Linked DNA regions of Homo sapiens: region 1 is linked to region 2. The links come from fine-mapping of genetic effects on gene expression. A gene starts in region 2. The other region holds a variant in brackets. All regions are shown on one strand. Distances are between the middles of the regions.

Region 1 (5,369 bases), 86 kb before region 2:
CCTGTCTCTACTAAAAATATAAAATTACAATATAAAATTACAAAAAAATACAAAAATTAGCTGAGCATGGTGGCACACACCTGTAATCCCAGCTACTTAGGAGGCTGAGGCAGGAGAATCACTTGAACCAAGGAGGCAGAGGTTGCAGTGAGCCGCCACTGCACTCCAGCCTGGGTGACAGAGTGAGACTCTGTCTCAGAAAAAAAAAAAAAAATTGCCCAAGATCTCACAGTTAAAGAGCATGAAGCCAGGATTCTAATATGGTTCTGACTCTAAAACTCTTTACACTTAGCCAAGCAGCTTCAGACTTTGTATGTTGGCAGGCCTAGATGCTATGGATAAATGGAATAAGGGTGCCTGCTCCCTGGAAAGTTCTGGCTGTGCCTGTGTGTGTTGGGACCAGTTGACTATGTACAATTCAAATGAAATTGGTCCTGCCCCAAACAAGAGCTGAGATGCTGGTCAGTGCATTGGGTTTGAGCATTCAGTAAACATTTACAGACCACTACCTACTAAGTATTTTGGTCTGCTCTGGGAATTCAAAAGATGGAGGAGATACTGGCCTTGCCACAAGGAGTTTGCAGTCAAATGGGAGATTGGTGTATAAACTAAGATATCACATTATATCTTAGCCCACACTGGCCAGGCACATTGGCTCACACCTGTAATCCCAACACTTTGGGAGACTGAAGTGGATGGATCACTTGAGGCCAGGAGTTCGAGACCAGCCTGGACAACATGCCAAAACCCCATTTCTACAAAAAATACAAAAATTAGAGAGGCCTGGTGATGCTTGCCTGTGGTCCCAGCTACTCAGGAAGCTGAGGTGGGAGAATCACCTGAGCCCGGGGAGGTCAAGGCTGTAGTTTGCCACGATTGTGCCACTACACTCCAGCCTGGGCAACAGAGCAAGACCCTGTCTCCAAAAAAAAAAAAGAGAGAGAGAGATAATGTGCTGAGGACTCTATTAATGCCATTGCAGTAATCAAGAGTATAGGCTAGGTTATACGGTGGTAACAAATTAACACACAAATCTCAGTGGCTTAACACAACAAAGTCCTCTTTTTTTTTTCCACTTATACTGTGTATCCATTGTGAATTGACGGGGATCTCTATCAGTCAGTGTTCAACCAGAGAAGCAGAAGCAGTAATATATGGAGTCATTTATTTCAAGGCGTTCACTTACGCAATCATGGCTAGCTAAGTGAGTTGGAAGTCTGTAGGGCAGGCAGACAGGAAGGGAAGATCACAAGCCAGCATCACAAGACACCCTGCTGGCTTGAGCCATGTGGAGTCTCTGAGAACAAGGAAGGCCTAAGCCCCCTTTTAAAGGGCTTGCTTCATTAGGTCAGGCCCACCCTAGATCACTTCTCTTTTGATCAACTTAAAGTCAACTGATTAGGGACTTCAATCACATTTGCAAAATTCCTTCACAGAAGCACCTAGATTCTTGTTTGATTTAGTAACTGGGGACTGGAGTTCAATCTAACCAAACCGATGCATCAGAAAGCATCAACTGTGCCACATAATTAATCAGGGCCACATAATTAATCAGGCCCACTGACTGGCAGAGGAACACACACAGAGGAAGAGCCGGAGCATCTCACACAAACAATCACATGTTGCAGGCCAAAAATGAATATGTCACCTCTGCTCACAATCTTCTGGCCAGCACTGGTCCCATGGCCCCTCCTAACTGCAAGGGTGGCACATTGCTTCTCCCTGGTGCCAGAGGAGAAGGAGGCCTGGAGGTGAGTCCACCCCAGCTGTTGTCTCGGCAGCTTCGATACTGCCCTGTCTGTGGTCATTTTACTCTCCTCCACTCTGCTTCCCAGACCTTACCAAACAGAAGCCCTTCCAAACCCACTGAGCCCTATCTACCTGGAGAAAGCTTAAAAGCTTACATCTGAAATTGTAGGAAACACAGGTGCATCTGGGGATGGACTGCTCTAGCCAGACTAGGCTGTCTCCACTAAGGTTAGGACAGAAGGCTCAGGCCTATGAGACCCTGAAGTTCATAGAAATTTGTGACCTTCTGCATACTTTGTAGTACTGAGACCTCCACCTGGTGGCTTGCAGAGGATCACCTATTTGAGCATGGAGGCAGCATATTGGCAAGCCCTCCTAACGAGAAGGATAGGCATCTTTGGTGTATTGGACTCTAACAATGCTTGCATCTGTGAAACTTACAAAAAGCAGAGGATTGATACAAAGTGATAATGATCCATGGTCACTGACAAACAAGAGCTGTCAATAGAATGCTGCTGTAAGTTCAAATGAAGAAGTCTGAGCATCGCAGACCAGATATGAGCCTTTTTCTTTCTCTAACATTTATTGAGCTCTTGCTGTGTGCCAGGCACTGTGCTGAGCACTTTGCATAGAAGCTTTCCTTGAATCCTGGCAGCAATTCTCTGCAGCAAGTCTATTGTTGGATGTATCTTGCCTAAGGCCACAAAACCAGTAAGCAGTAGAGGCAAGATTCCTACCAAGGCTATCTGGTTATAAAAACCTGTCTACCTGTGGCCAGGGCCACCCTTCACATACTATTGTGCAGGCAATGCCCCACAGGACAGCATCTGGCCAAGGGAACAACTGGGAGCTCCACAGACACCAGACCTGGGACTGCATCAGCTTGGAAGGGGGCCTTCTTCTAAATCTTCCAAAGGTGCCACGTGGCTGGGGGTAGGATAGGGGGAGCCCTGCTAACCTCTGGCCCTCTCTTCTAAAGACCATAGATCAGAAAGGAGCCCTTCAATCCCCTGATCACCTCCTGATGGTCACAGTTGAGCCTTACAGTGTGTGGAATGCTAATTGTCAATCAAAAGCAGTTCTGAAGAACCTATTATGTGTGCTAAATGCTATTGGAGGATGGAAGATGCACAGGACATGCCCCAGACATCAAACTGTTTACAATCAATAGGGAAACCCATACAAGCACATACTAGTTA[T/C]GCAAAGTAAAGTACGATCACAAGTGAAGGGGACCCACATAAAGTACAAGGTATTTAGAGCATCCTCGGAGCTGGAAGGGATCATCATTCACTCAGCCCCAGAGGAGAAAGGAGAGGTCTTCGAGGCCAGTGGGGCAGCCAGAGCCAGGCCCAAGGCGGGACAGCGCAAGCTGTGTTGCGGGACACCTCTCCCACTCACACAAACCAGCTTCTGTGTGCGGAGAGCACAAAGGTACACTAAGTATAACTTAAGGAATTCAGGTCTTCAGGGCCACACGCAGAGGTGCAGCCACCCAGCAACCTGGCCAAAGAAGGGGCAACAGCCTCACTGCAGAGAAGGGGCACAATTCAAAGCCTGCCACAGAGAAAGGTAAGGCTCTCTGCACAGGTAGCATGGGGCCTGCAATTGAAACCTGTGTCACGCTCGCCGGGGCTGACTCCCCTAGTCCCAGCCACTCACTGTGGGCTCCCCTGTCCCCAGGGCCCACCCTCCTGGCTCTGTGACTGCTTCAGGGCACACAGCACAGAGAGGAGGTCTCAGGAGGCTCGTGATGGTCACACTGACAGGTAGGGCTTTCACTCCCATCCCCTCTTGATACTCACCTGCCGCCCCCGACCCCTCTCCCTTCTTTGAAAGTATTGGAGAAGAAAATGATCTTAGACAGAATCCTTCTTGGCAACCCTTGCCCCTCACCATAATCTTCCCCTTCCTGCCCCTTCCCCAGTGCCATTCTTCCCCCAACACACACACACACACACACACACACACACACACGTTCCCTCTCACTCTCACCTCCTTTCCCTCCCCCACCCCTTCCCCTCCATTTGTTTCAATGAACAGCCCCTTTTATCTATTCTGTAGGTACAAATGAAGCTGTCAAATTTGATCAGGCGCTTGATATGACAGGCTGTGGGAGTCAGGACCCCTTGAACAGAGTGGGCCTTGTCTGTCACAGTCCGCCTGACACTTCCCATAATGCCCAGACTGATGAGATTCTGAGTAGGGCCCAGCACATTTTCAACTCTATTTTGGGTGAAAACCCTTCTTGAAAGATCTTGAAAGGAGCTGGCAGTTCAGCCGCCCGGATGATTAATGAGGGTTGGCTCTGCAGGATGGATTTCTCCTGGTGCCAACAGCCGGCCTCCAAACAGGCTAGAACGTGTTGCCGTGGACTTCCCCAGCACTTCCCCTCATGGTGACACCCCCCAAAAAACCTTTCCCATTCCCCAGGCCGCCCCTCACCTCCACCACAGTCCCTCTGGCTGTGCATCTCCCGCGGCCCTCTCTCGTGTTTCTGAAGCGGGAGCAGCCTTTGCATATGGAAAAAGTTAGGCATCACGGCTGAGTGAGGCCTGGCTGAGTGAGCCAGGCCTGCCAGAAATCTGTACAGAGTGGCGGGGCGCTGAGGGAGGGTGGAGAAGAAACAGAAGGGGATGGTGACCCAGGCTCTCCTTCAGCTTACGTCCCATGCCCTGATGGTCAGGGACGGGCCTCTCTGCTTTCTCTCCATGCAACTCAGGAGCTCTAGGGACAGAAACCATGGAGTGTCTAAGGCCCCAAAGGGATCCAGCATCAAAGTCCCTGCTTTTCACTTACCCCACAGTATTTATTAAAGGAGACACTCTTGATATTTGGGCAAGACACTTCTTTACTGAGCAGGACCCTTCTGTGCAAGGTAGAAGGTTTAGCATCCTTAGTCTCAAGATACCAATTGCTTGTAATGCCTCTCAACCATGAGGACCATCAGAATAATCCAGATGCCCTTGGCGGTGGTATCAGCCTGGGTTGAGAGCCACTATTAGGGTGAAGAGCCTCCCTCGTCCCCACATGCCTTGAGAGCTACGCCCACTTCGGTGTCTCCTTCCACTCTCATTTACACCCCTCAAGCCCACTCAGCAGGGAGAGCACTTTGAAGAGGGGTAAGGAGATGAGGGTGTTCTCCCATGCACCTTTTTTTTTTTTTTTTTTGTGAGACAGAGTCTAGCTCTGTCACCCAGGCTGGAGTGCAGTGGCCCAATCTCGGCTCACTGCAGCCTCTGCCTCCCAGGTTCAGGCAACTCTCCTGCCTCAGCCTCCCAAGTAGCTGGGATTATGGGATTACAGGCATGCGCCACCATGCCTGGCTAATTTTTGTATTTTTAGTAGAGACGGGATTTCACCATGTTGGCCAGGCTGGTCTTGAACTCAAGTGATCCACCTACCTCAGCCTCCCAAAGTGCTGGGATTACAGGTGTGAGCCACCACGCCCAACTCTCCCATGCACTCTTAATGCTAACTTTCCTTCTGTGCTGGTGCCTTAAACCACCCCTGCTCTAGACTCTGTTCCCCCACCTCCTTCTGTTTCCCTGTCTTCCCAGCAGACAGCAGCTCATTCATACTTGGGGAAAAGAATGGTGCCCACAGCTTCTTTGGGGTTTCAA
Region 2 (5,369 bases):
GCCCCTAGACTCTTAGGGGAATAAGGTCTCATAGAGTCCGGTAGATTATATTCTTGCCCAGATTAAACAGACTCTTTCGGAAAGTCCCCTCTCCCTTGCTCTGGTCGGAATTAATTCAGTCTTGTCTCTGTGATCGCCACTGAAGAGCTTATCACCTCTGATCAAGGTGTGTTTAATTGGTCAGGCTCCCTAGCAGATTTTTTGAGGTCTGGAACTAAATTCGAGTCATTCTCCTATCTCAAACAAACCTCAAAACAAAAAGATTTTGATGTGGGCAATTCATTCACTCCTCACTGCACCTCTGAGGAGAGGTCTGCAGGAAGCTTCCCAGGGGAAAGTCTCCCTGTGGCTCAGAGAAGAAAGCACTTAAAAAGGAACCATGGCCGGGCACGGTATACTAGAAATAAGAAGAAAAAAGGATTAAAACATGCTCATGGCAGGTTGCGGTGGCTCACTCCTATAATCCCAGAACTTTGGGAGGCCAAGGCGAGTGGATCACCTGAGGTCAGGAGTTTGAGACCAGCCTGGCCAATATGGTGAAACCCTGTCTCTCCTAAAAATACAAAAATTAGCCAGGCATGGTGGCAGGCGCCTGTAATCCCAGCTACTTGGGAGGCTGTGACAGGAGAATCACTTGAACCCAGGAGGTAGAGGTTGCAGTGAGCTGAGATTGTGCCACTGCACTCCAGCATGGGTGACAGAGCTAGACTCCATCACAAACAAACAAACAAACAAACAGACAAACATGCTCATGGCCAGGCATGGTGGCTCACACCTGTAATCCCAGCACTTTGGGAGGCCAAGTCAGGCAGATTGCTGGAGTCCAGGAGTTTGAGACCAGCCTGGGCAACATGGCGAGATCCCCATCTCTACAAAACATTAAAAAAAATTAGTTGCATGCAATAACAAACCTGTAGTTCCAGCTACTTGGGAGGCGGAGGTGGGAGGATTGAACCCAGGAGATCGAGGCTGCCGTGTTCCTGCCACTGCACTCCAGCCTGGGTGACAGAGAGAGACCTTGTCTCACACATACACAAAAAAAGGAATCAGAAAGTAAGTTCCTACCCTTGGACTCTAGTCTCAGTGACTCAGTTTCTTCATCCATACTTGCAAAATAAGAAAGTAACCTCCACTTCATCACCTCCCTGGGTGGGTAAGAAGTCAAATGTGGTGACCCTCAGGACAGTCCAGTGTTTTGTAGATGTCTCCATCAGACATTTCATTCCTAGTGGTGGGGAAGCCTCGCCTCATTAAATGTCCTTTGGCCTCTGTTCAGCCTCCAGGAGTGGGTGTTCCAGTAGAATTCTTCTTTAGACTTTGAGTGTCTTCATTTAGCCAAAGGAAATCACAGAAAAGCTATATGACCCAGGCCAGAGATCTCAGAGTCTTCCTTGCCTGTGAGCAGGAGGGCTGCACAGCCCTGCCTATGGGCTGTGGCTCTGCTGTCAGCTCTTTCCTGAGGAATGCAGCCTGGGCCACCGCCTGTGAGGGCTCCTGCTGGGGGAGTCCATTCCCCTTCTCCCTTCCTCCATTTGCAATCACTATTTATTTATCTTTGGAAGTTCAAGGAACCAGAGAGCCTGCAACTGGGGGAGATCTGTGGAGCCAGGGAGGGAAAGTGAAGAAGCCAACATCTAGGCCCCTGCCTGCCGCCAACGCCAACGGGCAAGAGAAGAAAGCCATTCCCTGCATAGTCAGGGTAGACTTGGCTGACAGGCACAGGGGCCCTAGAAAAGGCACCACCGCACATCAGCAGGGCTAAGCTCACTAAAGAATGTGGCATTCACCTTGGGGACCGCTTGGGTGGTAGAGTGAAGGAGGGGGAACGGGAGTCCTGCCCCATCCCGGCAGCTCTATTAAGCAACAGAAAGGTGAGCTTCTGTGGGGAAACAGAGGAAGCAGACCCCTGGGCTGCACTTCTTACTGCCTGTCCCCAGCCCTGGTTCCGGTGTACTGCAGGCTGTTTTTTTTTTAATTAATTTATTTATTTATTGAGACGGAGTCTCACTTTGTCACCAGGCTGCAGTGCAGTGGCACGCTCTCAGCTCACTGCAACCTCCGCCTCCTGGGTTCAAGCAATTCTCGTGCCTCAGCCTCCCAAGTAGCTGGGATTACAGGCGCCCACCACGACGCCCGGATAATTTTTGTATATTTAGTACAGACAGGGTTTCATCATTTTGGCCAGGTGGATCTCAAACTCCTCACCTCAAGTGATCCGCCCGCCTCGGCCTCGAAAAGTGCTGGGATTACAGGTGTCAGCCACCGCGCCCGGCCTGCAGGCAGCTTTATACCCACCACTAGTTGTCAAGGTCACCCCTGCCACCACCAGTCCTCTGCCTTTGGAAACCATGTGCCCCTCCCCCCCACCACACTCTCTTATTCTAATGCCACGATTTACTGGGCATCTAATGCCACTCTATAAACTGGGGAGCAGGCAGAGCCCCATTTCAACCCCAGAGATCTGCTACCCCAGCAAGCTAGGGGCTGTGTCCAAGGTCAGACAGTAATGAGAGGCAGAGCCGAGTCTGGAATAGGGGTCTCCAGACTCACTGCGCAGTGCTCTTTCCACACCCTGCTGCAAAGCCCTGCTCCTTCTCATCTACTTTTCCCTTGTCCCACTCACTGTCCCCGAAACACACACACACACACACACACACACACACACAGCGTTGTGGAAAATGTAGGAGGCCCAGTCTAGCCTCTAGCCTTGTCTGCCTTGGCCTTTGACCTCTCCTTGGCCGAATGACATGCACCCCCCGCTGAGCGAGGTCACCGCAGCGGAGGAGGGTCTGCTGCCTCCTTGTCTCGGCTGCCATCCTCCTGCGGCTGCCTCCACCGGAGCTGGAAGGAGAGTGAGAGCCGACTTCCAGACTGATCATCGTGTCAGGGGCCAAAGGAAACCTCGGAGCCTTCCACCAAGTTCAACCCAAAACAGGGCGCCCCAGACGTCTCTGTCCAAGCCCGCGGGTCCAGGAGGGCCCCAGCAGCCTGGAGACGCAAGCTGCACCGGCACGGACGAGGGAAATTTTGTGGAAGGTGGTGGTGGTCGGCTCAGAGGTCTGAGATGGGTTGCGGAAAGGAAGGGTCCTGGCCCGGGGCGCGGGGACAAGCGGGAGAGGAGTGTTGGTGCAGGGCGGGCGCGGGGACGCAGGGTCCTCGAACCAGCTGGCCCGCCCCCACTCGGCAGAGGGTCTAGGCCTGGCCGCGTGTCGGTCGGCGCTAGGGCCCCGCGGAAGGCCCGGGCGGGCGGGGACCGGCGGCGGGAGCGGCGCGGCGCGGAGCTGCCTCCATCCATGGCACGGAGCGGCGGCGGCGGCGGCAGCAGGAGCCCGGCGCGATCCGCTAGGTCCCAGCCCAGCGCCCAGCGAGCAGGCGACGCGGAGGGGCCGGGCCTCCAGTGTCCCGAGGGCCGGGCGCTGAGACTCCGGCCGCGCAGCTGGGAGCTGCCCGCGCTGCGCTGACAGCCGCGCCGACGTCCTCCCCGCCGGGGCGCTCGCAGGACATGCCCCCGGGGCGCGGCGGCGGGGACCCCGGGGCTCGCCTCCGCCCAGGGCCCCCCTCCACGCCCTCGGGAGCCCCGGGCCCCCGCTGAGCACTCCTCCCGCACGCCTGGGTCCCTCCGGCCGGCGCGCAGCCCGGCCCCAGCGCTGTGGGTCCCCGCGGGGCGATGGGTTGATGGGCGCCGGGGGACGCAGGATGCGGGGGGCGCCCGCGCGCCTGCTGCTGCCGCTGCTGCCGTGGCTCCTGCTGCTCCTGGCGCCCGAGGCTCGGGGCGCGCCCGGCTGCCCGCTATCCATCCGCAGCTGCAAGTGCTCGGGGGAGCGGCCCAAGGGGCTGAGCGGCGGCGTCCCTGGCCCGGCTCGGCGGAGGGTGGTGTGCAGCGGCGGGGACCTCCCGGAGCCTCCCGAGCCCGGCCTTCTGCCTAACGGCACCGTTACCCTGTGAGTACCCTACCAGGCCAGTTCCGTCCGAGCCGGGACTGGGGACGAAGGGAGGCGAGACGGGAGGGGTGGGAGCAGGGGGAAGGGGGCTATCCCCCCACTTCAGAGATTTCTGGACAGGCCTGGGTTCAGGCCCCCAGAGGGGAAGATTGGAGGAGCAGGGGAGAGACTGGGGCTCCAGGAGCGTGGAGGCGGGAAGGGGCTGCGGGGGACAGGCGCACCCCAGAGAAAGGCACCGCAGGCGCCCACTCACCTGCACAGGTGAAGTGGAGAGCACGCCTGCAGGGCACCCACGCCCCGGATTTCCAGCCTGGACTAGGGTTGCGGACTTTGGGGACCTGAGAAGGGTGAGAGCGGGGAATGCTCAGGAAAGATCGACGCTCGTGGCCCAGGAGGGGGCTGTGGTCCTAACCACTACGGTCGCGTCCCGGACTGGGCTGGAGGAGTCTCCGGATTTACCTGGCTGGCCTTGTCCCTTCAATTGGGGTCATCCCATCCTTGCCCCCTGGCCTGCCAGCGCCGCTTCCAGCCGGTCTCCTTAGGGCAAGGGGAGGCTGGGCTCAGAAAAGTCGGCCCTTGGAATACCGGCGCTCCTGGGCTGCAGGAGACCCTGGCGTCCCCATCCCTCTAGAGGCCCCTCTCCCACGGCGCCGTTTGTGCAGTGAGCTCTGTGCTGGGTCCCGCGTCCTTGCCTCTCCTTTGCCTCTCCTGGAAGTAACTCGAGCTTTGGCTGTTTCTCCATTGACTTCGCGCAAAGATTGCGAAGAAAGAAACGCGGCTGGGGAAGCGGGGTTCCCTCACCGCAGCCCACCCGGGCCTCCTTCCGCGACTTCCCTCTTAGTCAGGGCCTCAGTACGCCTTTGCTTTGCTGGCAGCGAGCGCTGCAGCGCCGCAGCCCGACCCCAAGCCTCCTACAAGGGGGTCGCAAGTCCCAGCAGCCGCGCGAGCATTGGCGACCCCTCCCCACCGCAGAGATTTCCTGCGCCGACCACGTGCTCGCAGCTCCACGCACGCCGTGGATTTGAGGGTCGGGCCCCCGCGGCCGCCGCTTCCTTTCCTGTCCCAAATCCAGCCTAAGAGCCGCTTCCCTTTCCCTGTCCTCCTGACCCCAGTGGCAACCGTTTCTCCACCGCCCCTTGCCCGCAGTCGGGGCTGGCCCAGTCTTTTCGATTGTGTCCAGAACAATACAGTAACGCCTCTGGTTGGGTGAGTTCAGAGGCTGCCCGCTTCCTGACAGGACACAACTGGTCAGCCTCTGACGCTGGCCGCCCGGCCTGCATTTTCCCCGGCCCGGGTGTGTGTGTGCATGTGTGTGCCTTAAGGGTGGAGGCGGTGTGTCTGCTCGCTGCCGCCTCCCTGCTGCTCAGGGTAAGGCTGTGGCCAGGGAAGGCACCTGTGGCTGTTCAGGGCAGCTCTCTCTGACTGTCC

The links. PIP is the estimated chance that this variant, and not a neighbour inherited with it, causes the effect.
Region 1: its variant is the best candidate, but not a certain one, in a credible set for the expression of ADGRA2 in whole blood (INTERVAL, PIP 0.89).

What each region holds. Positions count from the first base shown.
Region 1 is chr8:37,707,321-37,712,689 of GRCh38, forward strand. No RefSeq gene overlaps it. Among named protein-coding and RNA genes, the nearest start is that of ZNF703, 14 kb to the left of the region's middle. The variant T/C (reference allele first, on the strand shown) is at 2,949.
Region 2 is chr8:37,793,594-37,798,962 of GRCh38, forward strand. It overlaps ADGRA2 (adhesion G protein-coupled receptor A2), which reads left to right and starts at 3,290. Exons shown (of 19, transcript NM_032777.10): 1 at 3,290-3,941. The coding sequence starts at 3,676. RefSeq lists enhancers at 1,720-2,285, 2,286-2,851 and silencers at 3,115-3,354, 3,365-3,534, 3,815-3,904.